Linked DNA regions of Homo sapiens: region 1 is linked to region 2. Evidence: fine-mapped expression QTL. A gene starts in region 2. The other region holds a variant in brackets. All regions are shown on one strand. Distances are from middle to middle.

Region 1 (5,372 bases), 50 kb after region 2:
CCCAGACTAAAGTAATGGCATGATCTTGGCTCACCACAACCTCTGCCTCCCGGGTTCAAGTGATTCTCCTGCCTCAGCCTCCCAAATAGCTGGGATTACAGGCATATGCCATGACCCCCAGCTAATTTTTTGTATTTTTAGTAGAGACGGAGGTTTCTCCAGGTTGGTCAAGCTGGTCTTGAACTCCTGACCTCAGGTGATTCACCCACCTCAGCCTCCCAAAGTTCTGCAATTACAGGTGTGAGCCACTGTGCCTGGCACAGCGTTTTCAAAAAATGTGTGCTGAAAAAGTATCACATGAAGAGGATAAGAATTGACAAGTTCCTGCCTTTGCTTTATACCTATAATATATGAATGGCTTTCTTAGGTGGACCAATTTCTAGGTATCTTATGTTGTGCACAGATAAATTTGTAAATCTGTCATTAATGGCCTAGTTAGAATAATACTTTCAGGTATGAACATTTCAAAGATACTCATAGGTCTCTCAGTTTGTTCTAGTGTGAAGAAAGTTGGCCCGGCGTGGTGGCTCATACCTGTAATCCCAGCACTTTGGGAGGCCAGGGTGGGCGGATCATCTGAGAAACCCCGTCTCTGCCAAAAATACACAATTAGCCAGGTGTGGTGGCGCATGCCTGTAATCCCAGCTACTTAGGAGGCTGAGGCAGGAGAATCGCTTGAACTAGGGAGACAGAGGTTGCAGTGAGCCAAGATCAAGCCACTGCACTCCAGCCTGGGCTACAAGAGCAAAACTCCATTCCCTCCCCCGCCCCCGCCCCCGGCCCCCGCCCAAAAAAAAAAAAAAAAAGATACTGAGAGTATCTGTCAATTGCATGAAAGGCCTTTCTCCTATTTTTCTCCCTTAAAAAGATGTAGGGAGGCCGAGGCAGGCAGATCACAAGGTCAGGAGATCGAGACCATCCTGGCTAACACGGTGAAACCCCGTCTCTACTAAAAATACAAAAAATTAGCTGGGCATGGTGGCAGGCACCTGTAGTCGCAGCTACTTGGGAGGCTGAGGCAGGAGAATGGCGTGAACCCGGGAGGCGGAGCTTGCAGTGAGCTGAGATGGCACCACTGCACTCCAGCCTGGGTGAGAGTGGGAGACTCCATCTCAAAAAAAAAAAAATATATATATACACACACACACACACACACACACACACACACACACGCAGACACACACACACACACGTATACATATGAGAGAGAGGGGCTGGGCATGGTGGTGCATGCCTGTAATCCCAGCACTTTGGAAGACTGAGGCGGGCAGATTGCTTGAGCTCAGGAGCTTGAGACCAGCCTGGGCAACATAGCTAGACCTCATCTCTACAAAAAATACAAAAATTATTGTATTTTCCTACAAATTTTGTAAAACTTTTCTACTAAAAAAAGAAGAAATAGAAATAAGGTCTCTGGCAGCTAGGCAAACTTTATGCTGTAAGACTTCAGATTCACTCCTTGTTATTAACCTCTTAATGCTCCTTGTTATTAACAATATGTTCCTTATTAACCTCTTAATAACCTCTTAATAACTCTTGTTATTAACCTCTTAATAATGAGTATTGGAGACTTTATGGTTCTGAATGAAGGTCAGTATTTATTTGTTCTTTTGAGACAGAGTCCCGCTCTGTCGCCCAGGCTAGCGTACAGTGGTTCAATCTCGGCTCACTGCAACCTCTGCTGGGAGGGGTTCAAGCAATTCTCGTGCCTCAGCCTCTCAAGCAGCTGGGATTATAGGTGCCCGCCACCATGCCCGGCTAATTTTTGTATTTTTAGTAGAGATGGGGTTTCTTCATGTTGGTCAGGCTGGTCTCGAATTCCCGACCTCAGGTGATCCGCCCACCTCGGCTTCCCAAAGTGCTGGGATTACAGGCATGAACCACTCCACCCGGTCTTAATTTTTGTATTTTTATTAGAGATGGGGTTTCGCCATGTTGGCCAGGCTTGGCCAGGCTGATCTTGAACTCCTGATCTCAAGTTATCCGCCTGTCTGGGCCTCCCAAAGTGTTGTGATTACAGGCATGAGCCACCATGTCTGGCCTATTCTTTGATTCTTGATTTTTTTATTTTTATTTTTTTGAGAGTGAGTGTCACTGTTGTTACCCAGGCTGGAGTGCAGTGGCACCATCTCAGCTCACTGCAACCTCCACCTCCTGGGCTCAAGTGATTTTCCTTCCTCAGCCTTCCGAGTAGCTGGGATTATAGGCATGTGCCACCATACCTGGCTAATTTTGTATTTTT[A/G]GTAGAGATGGGGTTTCTCCATGTTGGTCAGGCTGGTCTCAAACTCCTGACCTCAGGTGAACTGCCCGCCTCAGCCTCCCAAAGTTGATTGCTATTAATATAATCCTATAGTTACCAGAACACGTATACTAGAATTACAGTACACTGAAATGGTCAAAAGGCAAATAAAATAGAAATAAGAAAATTTTGATGAAAATCTGGAGAATTAAGTCTTTCTGTAATTGAGAGTTGATTTTTTGATTGTGGAATCCTTGAAATGGTTTGAAAGAATGATGTGACTTGAATGGGCTTTATAAACACAGCCTGGTAAGGATAGCTGTGACAGCTTGGGACAGTGGATTTGGGGTACCACCAGTTAACATTTCTGGCCCTGTTTTCCTGTCTTTAAAGTGGAGATACCAACTCAGAATAGTAATGTGAGGATTAATTGAGGTAACTTATGCTAGGCACTGAACAGTGCCTGATACAGTATTGATAATGCTGTTTCTTTTTCCATGTGTAAAATGGGCATACCACTAGTCTCTTGGGTCAGTAATGCATTTCAGCCAAATGAAATAAATAACACAGGTGAACTGCCTAGGAGTGCCATACATAGATGAGCAGTAGCTACTATGTCAGTGTTCCTTTTGTTCCCTTTTATGAGTGCATTTTGTTTTGCATTTTCTTGTGTCTGTTGTGGCTTAAGGGATAAGATTTGTGTGTCTGAAATGCTGTGCTAAACAGGACGTTGTTCCTTGTGGAATACTTGGGTAATATGGTTTCCTAGATTTCATATTCACTATTTCTACTTTGAGAGTCTACTGTTAGGAGGCTTCTGTGTTCAAAGAAAACTGAAAATTATAAATGAATATTTTGGATTTGTAATAGGGGACACTTGGGTCTCTTCGTAGTTTCAAGTGACAAGTTGAGGCGGGGAGGAGGGCTCTAATATTTAGAGTTGTAATGCAGATTTAAGACTTAATCAGTTTTAGCTATTTGCTTTGTAAACTATATTGTATCAAGAGTCCTTATTTGCCGAAAACAGCTTTCTTTTTTTTTTAGAGACGGGGTGGGGACAGGGGTCCACGGGTCCGCTATGTAGCCCAAACTGGTGCAAACTCTTGAGCTCAAGCAGTCCTCCTGTCTCAGCCTCCTGAGTAGTTGGGATTGATTACAGGAGGGCAACATCATGACTGCCTTGAAGACAGTTTCCTTGATGAGACCTTTGTAAAATAACTTTGGTCTTGTCATAGAATTGGCTTAGAATCTTCTTAAAGTAGAGGTTTCTTTATAGAATTCTATAGTTATTTTTTAACCTCTGCTGTGCTGTGGAGGCCATGAGTACATATTTGTTTATTTTACACTTCATTAAGTTCCAGATTTGTAAAGTTTGGGGCTTTTTTGGGCTGTTGTTTTCCGAGACAAGGTCTCATTGTGTCACTCAGGCTGGAGTGCAGTGGCGTTATCGTGGCTCACTGTAGCCTCAACCTCCCAGGCCTCAAGTGATTCTTCCCCACCTCAGCCTCCCAAGTAGCCGGGACTATAGGTGCGCAACACCACGCTTGGCTAATTTTATTTTTTGTAGAGATGGGGTCCCACTATGTTTCCCAGGCTGGTCTTGACCCCCTGGTCTCTAGCAATCCTCCTGCCTCGGCCTCCCAAAGTGCTGGGATTACAGGCATGAGCTACCATGCTGGCCTTCTTTTCCATTAGAGACAGGATCTCTCTTTGTTGCCCAGACTTGAGTGCAGTGGTGCAATTATAGCCTGGAACTCTTGGGCTCAAGCGATCCTCCAGCCTCAGCTTTCCGAGTAGCTGGGACTACAGGTGCACACTGCTACACCTGGCTAATTTTTGTAGTATTTGTAGAGACGGGATCTCTCCTAGTCTTGAACACCTGTCCTCAAGTGATCCTCCTGCCTTGGCCTCCCAAAGTGTTGGGATTACAGGTGTGAGCTGCCGCACCCAGCCCTGTTGATATTTTCTAAAGATGAGCACAGTCCAGCCCTGTTGATATGTTGTAAAGCTGAGCACGGTGGCTCACGCCTTTAATCCCAGCACTTTGGGAGGCCAAGACACGCGGATCACGTGAGGCCAGAAGTTTGAGACCAGCCTGGCCAACATGGTGAAACACTGTCTCTACTGAAAATACAAGACTTAGCCAGATGTGGTGGTGCGTGTCTGTAATCCCAGCTCCTCAAGTGGCTGAGGCACAAGAATGGCTTGAACCCAGGAGGTGAAGGTTGCAGTGAACTGAGATCACGCCACTACACTCCAGCCTGGGCAACAGGGAGACCCTGTCTCAAAAAAAAAAAAAAAAAAAAATGGAGAAAGTATCAAGAATGATGAGGTTTTTTTAGTGATTGCATTGATACCTAATGGATCTCACTTAATCAAATTTGATGTGCCACTTTTAGATATGTTCATGGGTGCAGATACGGCTTTATTTATTTGAGACAGAGTTTCACTCTTGTTGCCCAGGGTGGAGTGCAGTGGTGCGATCTCAGCTCACTGCAGCCTTCGCCTCCCGGGTTGAAGCGATTCTTCTGCCTCAACCTCGAGTAGCTGGGATTATAGGCACCTGCCAGCATGCCTGGCTAATTTTTGTATTTTTAGTAGAGATGGGGTTTCACCATGTTGGCTAGGCTGGTCTCGAACTCCTGACCTCAGGTGATCCACCTGCCTCGGCCTCCCGAAGTGCTGAAATTACAGACGCACGCCACCGCGCCCAGCCCAGTACGGCTTTAGAAAGAACTCTCCACTAACTTTATGACCTCCAGGTCTTCTTTTTATAGCTACATTCAGCTTTGACAAAATGGAGTTGAATAATTTTACTTTCTTTCTAAGTTATAACTCCATTAAAACTGTGTTTTGGGGGGGAATGTCTTTAGTTTGGGGATTATGCAAAATGAAGTTTTTTGATTCCTGGGCTGTGTAATTTTGTACTGTTATACTTTTAATTTCGAAGGGTCAGTAGTTTCCATTTTCTTTCTTTCTTTCTTTCTTTCTTTCTTTCTTTCTTTCTTTCGTTCTTTCTTTCGTTCTTTCTTTCGTTCTTTCTTTCGTTCTTTCTTTCTTTCGTTCTTTCTTTCGTTCTTTCTTTCTTTCTTTCTTTCTTTCTTTCTTTCTTTCTTTGACAGTCTCGCCCTGT
Region 2 (5,372 bases):
TTATTAGCTGCCACGTGGTGGCAGGCTGACGGGGGAGGATCACTTAAGCCCAGGCTGCAATGAGCCAAGATCGTGCCACTGCACTCCAGCCTGGGTGACAGAGTAAGAACCTATCTCAGCCAGGCGCAGTGGCTCACTCCTGAAATCCCAGCATTTTGGGAGGCTGAGGCGGGCGGATCACCTGAGGTCAGGAGTTTGAGAACAGCCTGACCAACATGCAGAAACTCCATCTCTACTAAGAATACAAAATTAGCCAGGGTGGTGGTGCATACCTGTAATCCCAGCTACTCAGGAGGCTGAGGCAGGAGAATCACTTGAACCTGGGAGCGGGAGGTTGCGGTGAGCCAAGATTGCTCCATTGCACGCCAGCCTGGGCAACAAGAGCAAAACTCCATCTCAAGAAAAGAAAAAAGAACCCGTCTCAATTTATATATATTTTAATGTTAATTTTTTTAACTTTTTTTTTAAGTGATGGGGACAGCTGGGCGCGGTGGCTCACGCCTGTAATCCCAGCACTTTGAGAGGCCAAGGCGGGCGGATCACGAGGTCAGGAGTTCCAAGACCAGCCTGACCAACATGGTGAAACCCCGTCTCTACTAAAAATACAAAATATTAGTCGGACATGGTGGCGCGCTCCTGTAATCCCAGGTACTCAGGAGGCTGAGGCAGGAGAATCGCTTGAACCCGGGAGGCGGAGGTTGCAGTGAGCCAAGATCGCAGCATTGCACTCCAGCCTGGGCAACAGAGCGAGAGTCTGTCTCAGAAAAAAAAAAAAAAAAGAGAGAGAGAGATGGGGTCTCACTCTGTTGCCCAGAGTGGTCTCAAACTTCTGAGCTCAAGCGATCTTCCCACCTTGGCCTCCCAAAGTGCTAATATCATAGGCGTAAGCCACCATGCCCAGCCATACCCGTCTCAATTAAAAAATAAATAAAATAATTGTTGTTTAAGACCAGCCTGGGCAACAGAGTGAGACCTCGTCTCTACAAAAAATTTTAAAAAAAATTAGCCAGGCATGGTGACCTGCACCTGTAGTCCCAGCTACCTGGGAGGCTGAGGTGGGAGAATCACTTGAGCCCGCAAGGTCAAAGCTGCAGTGAGCCAAGATCATACCATTGCACTCCAGCCCAGGTGACACAGCAAGACCCTCTCTCAAAAATAAATAAAATTGTGGCTGCAAAACAAGAGAGGAGGGAGCAGGGACTATAACCAGCCTAGGGCTTTTCTCTGGATCCTGCTGCCACCTCTTCTTAACTCCCATTCTGGAGCCCACCCATCTGCCTTACACCCACCAGCTCATGGCATCATCTTTCTCTATATCCCTTTCCCAGTGGCTTCCTCCCTATCCCAGTCCCCTGATGCAAATCCTGATGTCATCTGCCCCAGCCACCCATCTCTACCTCAACCCTCACTTCTCTGGTGAGAACTCTTGTGGATCCAGGGAGTGTCAAATCCCAGCCTGAACCAAACCTCAACTGAGATTATATTATCCTATAATATACCTTCTCCCCTCCCCTCCCCTCCCACCATTGGAATCACCCTCAGGAGAGCAGCTCCACTCTTCTCATCCAGAAGGGGCCCATGGCCCTAAGAAGGGCCATAGATTGCCATAGGTTGGCTTTTGGCATCCCCCAGCTCTCCTTCGACATCCCTGTGTGGCTCATCCCACCCTTACCCTGCTTCTTGTCCTCCCCACAGTCCTGTGGCCCAAGCTTTTCAAGTTGGTGAAAGAGACAGTTGTGATCTGACAAGGGCTAGACAGGTGCTTCACCCTCTGTCACCAAATACCCTCATTATCCAGCCCAAAACACCTCCATTCATTCCTTTCTATTCTGGCACATATTCGTTAATTCATTCCATCATTCACCTAACACCCTTGAAGCAGAGCCAATCACCTCTACCAACATCTTCCTAGAGACAAATAGATTAACTGGGGTGGGGTAAACTTTGAGAGCTCCAAAAGGAAAGCTCCAGAGGACGGGGGTTCTGCAGGGGTCCAGGCCTCTCAGGGACCACAGAGCAGACCTGCAGCAGAGGCAGAATTAGAGCCCATGGCTCTGGAGTCAACCAGGGCCAGGCAGAGGGCACCAGCTCTTGGCTGCTGAAAGTAGAGCTCTTCAAAAGTCATCCACTCAGTCAGCATCTACTGAGTGCCAGGCAGTGTCGTCACCTCTACAGCCGTCAGGGGAGAGAACAGCAGCCTAGAGAAAGGGAGTCTGAGCCCCCATCCCACGGGCTCGAAGCCCAGAGTAGAGGCCAGCACTAGTGCCTCTGGTGAGTATTACCATGGGAAGACCGCTGTTCCCAGCCCGGGTGCCCTGCTGGACTCTTGCTAGCCTGGCCCCAGCGAGGCAGGGCATCAGTTTCCCTCTCCAGAGGCCTTTCTTCCCCACCTATTGCCCTCTCAATCCTGTCCCTTCTTGCAGGAGCAACCTTCCCAGCAGAAAATTCCATTCTGCCCCAAGGACTCTCCTCCTTACTGCCCCTCACCCCGGGGAACGCAGGCTGCCCCTCTGATGCCTGCAGACTCCCTTCTCCCTCTTTCCTAACCGACCGTGGGCATTTTCCAATTTGGAGGTGAGGAGGAAAAACTAGGTTATTTTCAGCTCTTCCTTTACTGGCAACATTGACCCATTTATCCTTCTCTTCCTTCAGACCTCTCCCCCAAGGCCACTTAGCTTGGACATCTGTCCCAGCCAAAATCTCACCTTCCACTGTCCTTGCAGCCCAAAGGCTAGTCCAGCCTCTGAGTCCAGCTCTAGCCCTCTCTCCCCACACTAGGAAGGAAGCTGGACTGTAGAGCGCTCTGGGCCACCCCGCGTTAGCTGCTGCCTCTGGCCTCAGTTTCCCCAACTGCTCAGATTAATGATGCCTGCTCTCTAGACCCAGAGGACGAAGCTCTAAGGAGGTCACAGATGAGGAAGGGTCCAGTGCTCGGCGCAGACTCCGTGCGGAGCCCCTAGGCCCCGCAGCTCGCCCCTCCCTCTCCCCTACTCCCCTCCTCTCCCCCTCCCGTCTCTCCCCCGCCTCTTCGCTCTCGCTCGGCTCCCTCTCTAGCTGACCTTCCCTTTCCCTCACGCCTCCCCACGCCCGGCCCCTGGCCCCAGCACCCTGTCCGCTGCCGCCTCAGAGCCGGGAAAAGCAGCCGGAGCCCCCGCCGCCCCTGCCGCAGCGCGGGCGGTCAGCGCGCAGCCCGGCACCCGCAGCCTGCAGCCTGCAGCCCGCAGCCCGCAGCCCGGAGCCAGATCGCGGGCTCAGACCGAACCCGACTCGACCGCCGCCCCCAGCCAGGTGAGGGCAGCTGAGGGGAGGCAGGGAGCCGAGGTTCCCCCTTTACTGGAAGCGAGGGCTGGGGAGGCGCGGGGAAATTGGGTCCTTTTTCCTTGAAAGGAGGACCTGGGAGCCTTTTCGTGAAACAGGCACAAGGGCTTTCATTCCAAAGGGATGGATGGATGGAGGGAAGGTCTCGGGGGAGAGGGATTGGTTTTTGTTTTTTAAAAATAAGGATTAATTGGCTTCTGTGAAAGTGGGACTTCTTGGAAGGATGAGGGGCTTTCAAGGTAGGTTGGGGAGGGGGCTCTGGCAGGGCTTGAGGGAAGGGTTAACTGGTGAGTGGCAGGGCAAGGGGGAACTCTGCGATCCCCTCAGCCTGACATCGCTGCACCTCCCGCCTTGGCTCCGGGGCTCTGGGTCTCTCCAGCTCTGTGTCCCAGTTTTTCTCTTTGAAGATGACTATTTTGAACCCCACCTGGACAGAGCCAGGAACAGCCATTTCCTTCCCTGGAGCTATGACACCCACCTGACACACCCTCCCACACCTCTGACCTGCTCAGGGAAGGGGGTTCAGGGAAGGACGAGGATCCAGGGATCTGGGAATTGGGCAGTGTGGGTGAAACGGAGGCTGGGTACTGGGTGCACAGGAAGACCCTTGGCACTGGTGGGGTGCACCAGCCTTGGTCAGGAGGTTGCTGGGCAGCTGCTTCTGGGGCAGGACCCACTAGGAAAGCAGCGGTATGGAAAAGCTGAGCTGTTTTCCGTGTTCCCAGAAGACAAAACACTAGAGAATGTGTTTGCTTGCTTTTGTTTGGTTTTGCTTTCTGTCTTCCTCACCCTGGATCCCAAGACTCATTCCTCTGATCTCCTCTCCTAGTTTTGCAAAAAGGTAAACTGAGGCACAGAACAAATTGGCTGGACATACCTGTGTCTAGGAGGGAAGAGTGACAGGAAGGCATACGGAATTTGAGTCAAAAAACCTCAGTGCTCCATGGGTGACCTTGGGCCAAAATGCTTTCCCTTGTTGGGCCTCAGCTTTCTCATCTATAAAATGGGAGACGGCCCACCTGTCTTGTAGGTTTGCCAAGACCATGTGTCTAAAAGAACTTTGTAAAAGGGAATGCACTGGACACTTGTGAGGTGCCATCTTCACCACTGTGGATGGCCCCTTCCCTCCTCCCTGTCCTAACCAAGGGACACCTAACTAATCCATAGGACACCTTTGTGAGAATTACAAAAAGCACCTCCTCTGGAAGGAGACAGCATTCAGTTGGCTAGCAACTTGGGGTCTTTAGTATGAGAATGAGAAGGTGGCATACTTTACGCCAGGTGCTGCTCTAACATGTGGAGTGTGAGCTAGATTCTAGCTGGGACGTTCTGCACATCTACACCTGACAACCCTTCTCAGCAGGTCCCTGCTGTCTCTAAGAGACACAGAGCTACACATACAGGGCATTTTCTAAAGCAGCCCACATCCCAGGCTGTCTCCAGCTCATTTCTTTCCTGTTTTGTTTCCACATCAGGGCTTTTGGGTATTCAAGCCCCAAAGCACGTGCCCTACTAGGAAGCAGGATGGAATCCCTACATCAGAGAGTGACTCCTTTGAGTTAAGCAGTGCCTTCACCAAGCTCTCAGGGGTAGGAGTGACTGAGTCCCTAAACCCTTACGTCAAGAACTGGACCAGATCACTTTTGTCAGGGCAACCGACAGAAGCATCTGCACACCTCAGCACTGCCGTTGACAAACCATGTTCACACCTATCTCAGCACACCCCCACAGCAAGCCTGTGTGTGAGGTCTCTTCCCCATTTACATGGAGGAAGCCATGCCCAGAGAAGTTAGGGAACCTGCCCAAGGTTTCACAGTGTGAGTGGTAGAGCCAGGACCTGAACCCAGATCTGGCTATCTGTCCTCTCCAATCCATCACTCCCAAGGAACAAAGCTGCTGACTTCACAGCCTTGCCAAAGCCCTGCTGGAATTGTTGCTGTCCCTGTCCATCCCCAGTAGCCCCTGGCTCGCCACTCCTTCTTCTGAGTAACCAGCCTCCAAGCAAAGAGAAAGGAGTCACCTTCTCTTTTACTCTGATTTCAAGGGGGAGGAAG

Direction of the effects. Positions count from the first base shown, and alleles are read on the strand shown. Sizes are in standard deviations (SD) of each study's normalised expression.
For the expression in esophagus mucosa of the gene that starts at base 3,025 in region 2, allele A in region 1 goes with a higher level than allele G (moderate effect, 0.42 SD a copy in GTEx).

What was found. PIP is the estimated chance that this variant, and not a neighbour inherited with it, causes the effect. A credible set is the group of variants that fine-mapping cannot tell apart.
Region 1: its variant is the best candidate, but not a certain one, in a credible set for the expression of C1QTNF4 in esophagus mucosa (GTEx, PIP 0.56).

The regions. Positions count from the first base shown.
Region 1 is chr11:47,541,671-47,547,042 of GRCh38, reverse strand. All of the region lies in intron 1 of CELF1 (CUGBP Elav-like family member 1), which reads left to right. Among named protein-coding and RNA genes, the nearest start is that of CELF1, 8.8 kb to the left of the region's middle. RefSeq lists an enhancer at 4,377-4,876. The variant A/G (reference allele first, on the strand shown) is at 2,243.
Region 2 is chr11:47,592,064-47,597,435 of GRCh38, reverse strand. C1QTNF4 (C1q and TNF related 4) reads left to right here and starts at 3,025. Exons shown (of 2, transcript NM_031909.3): 1 at 3,025-3,288.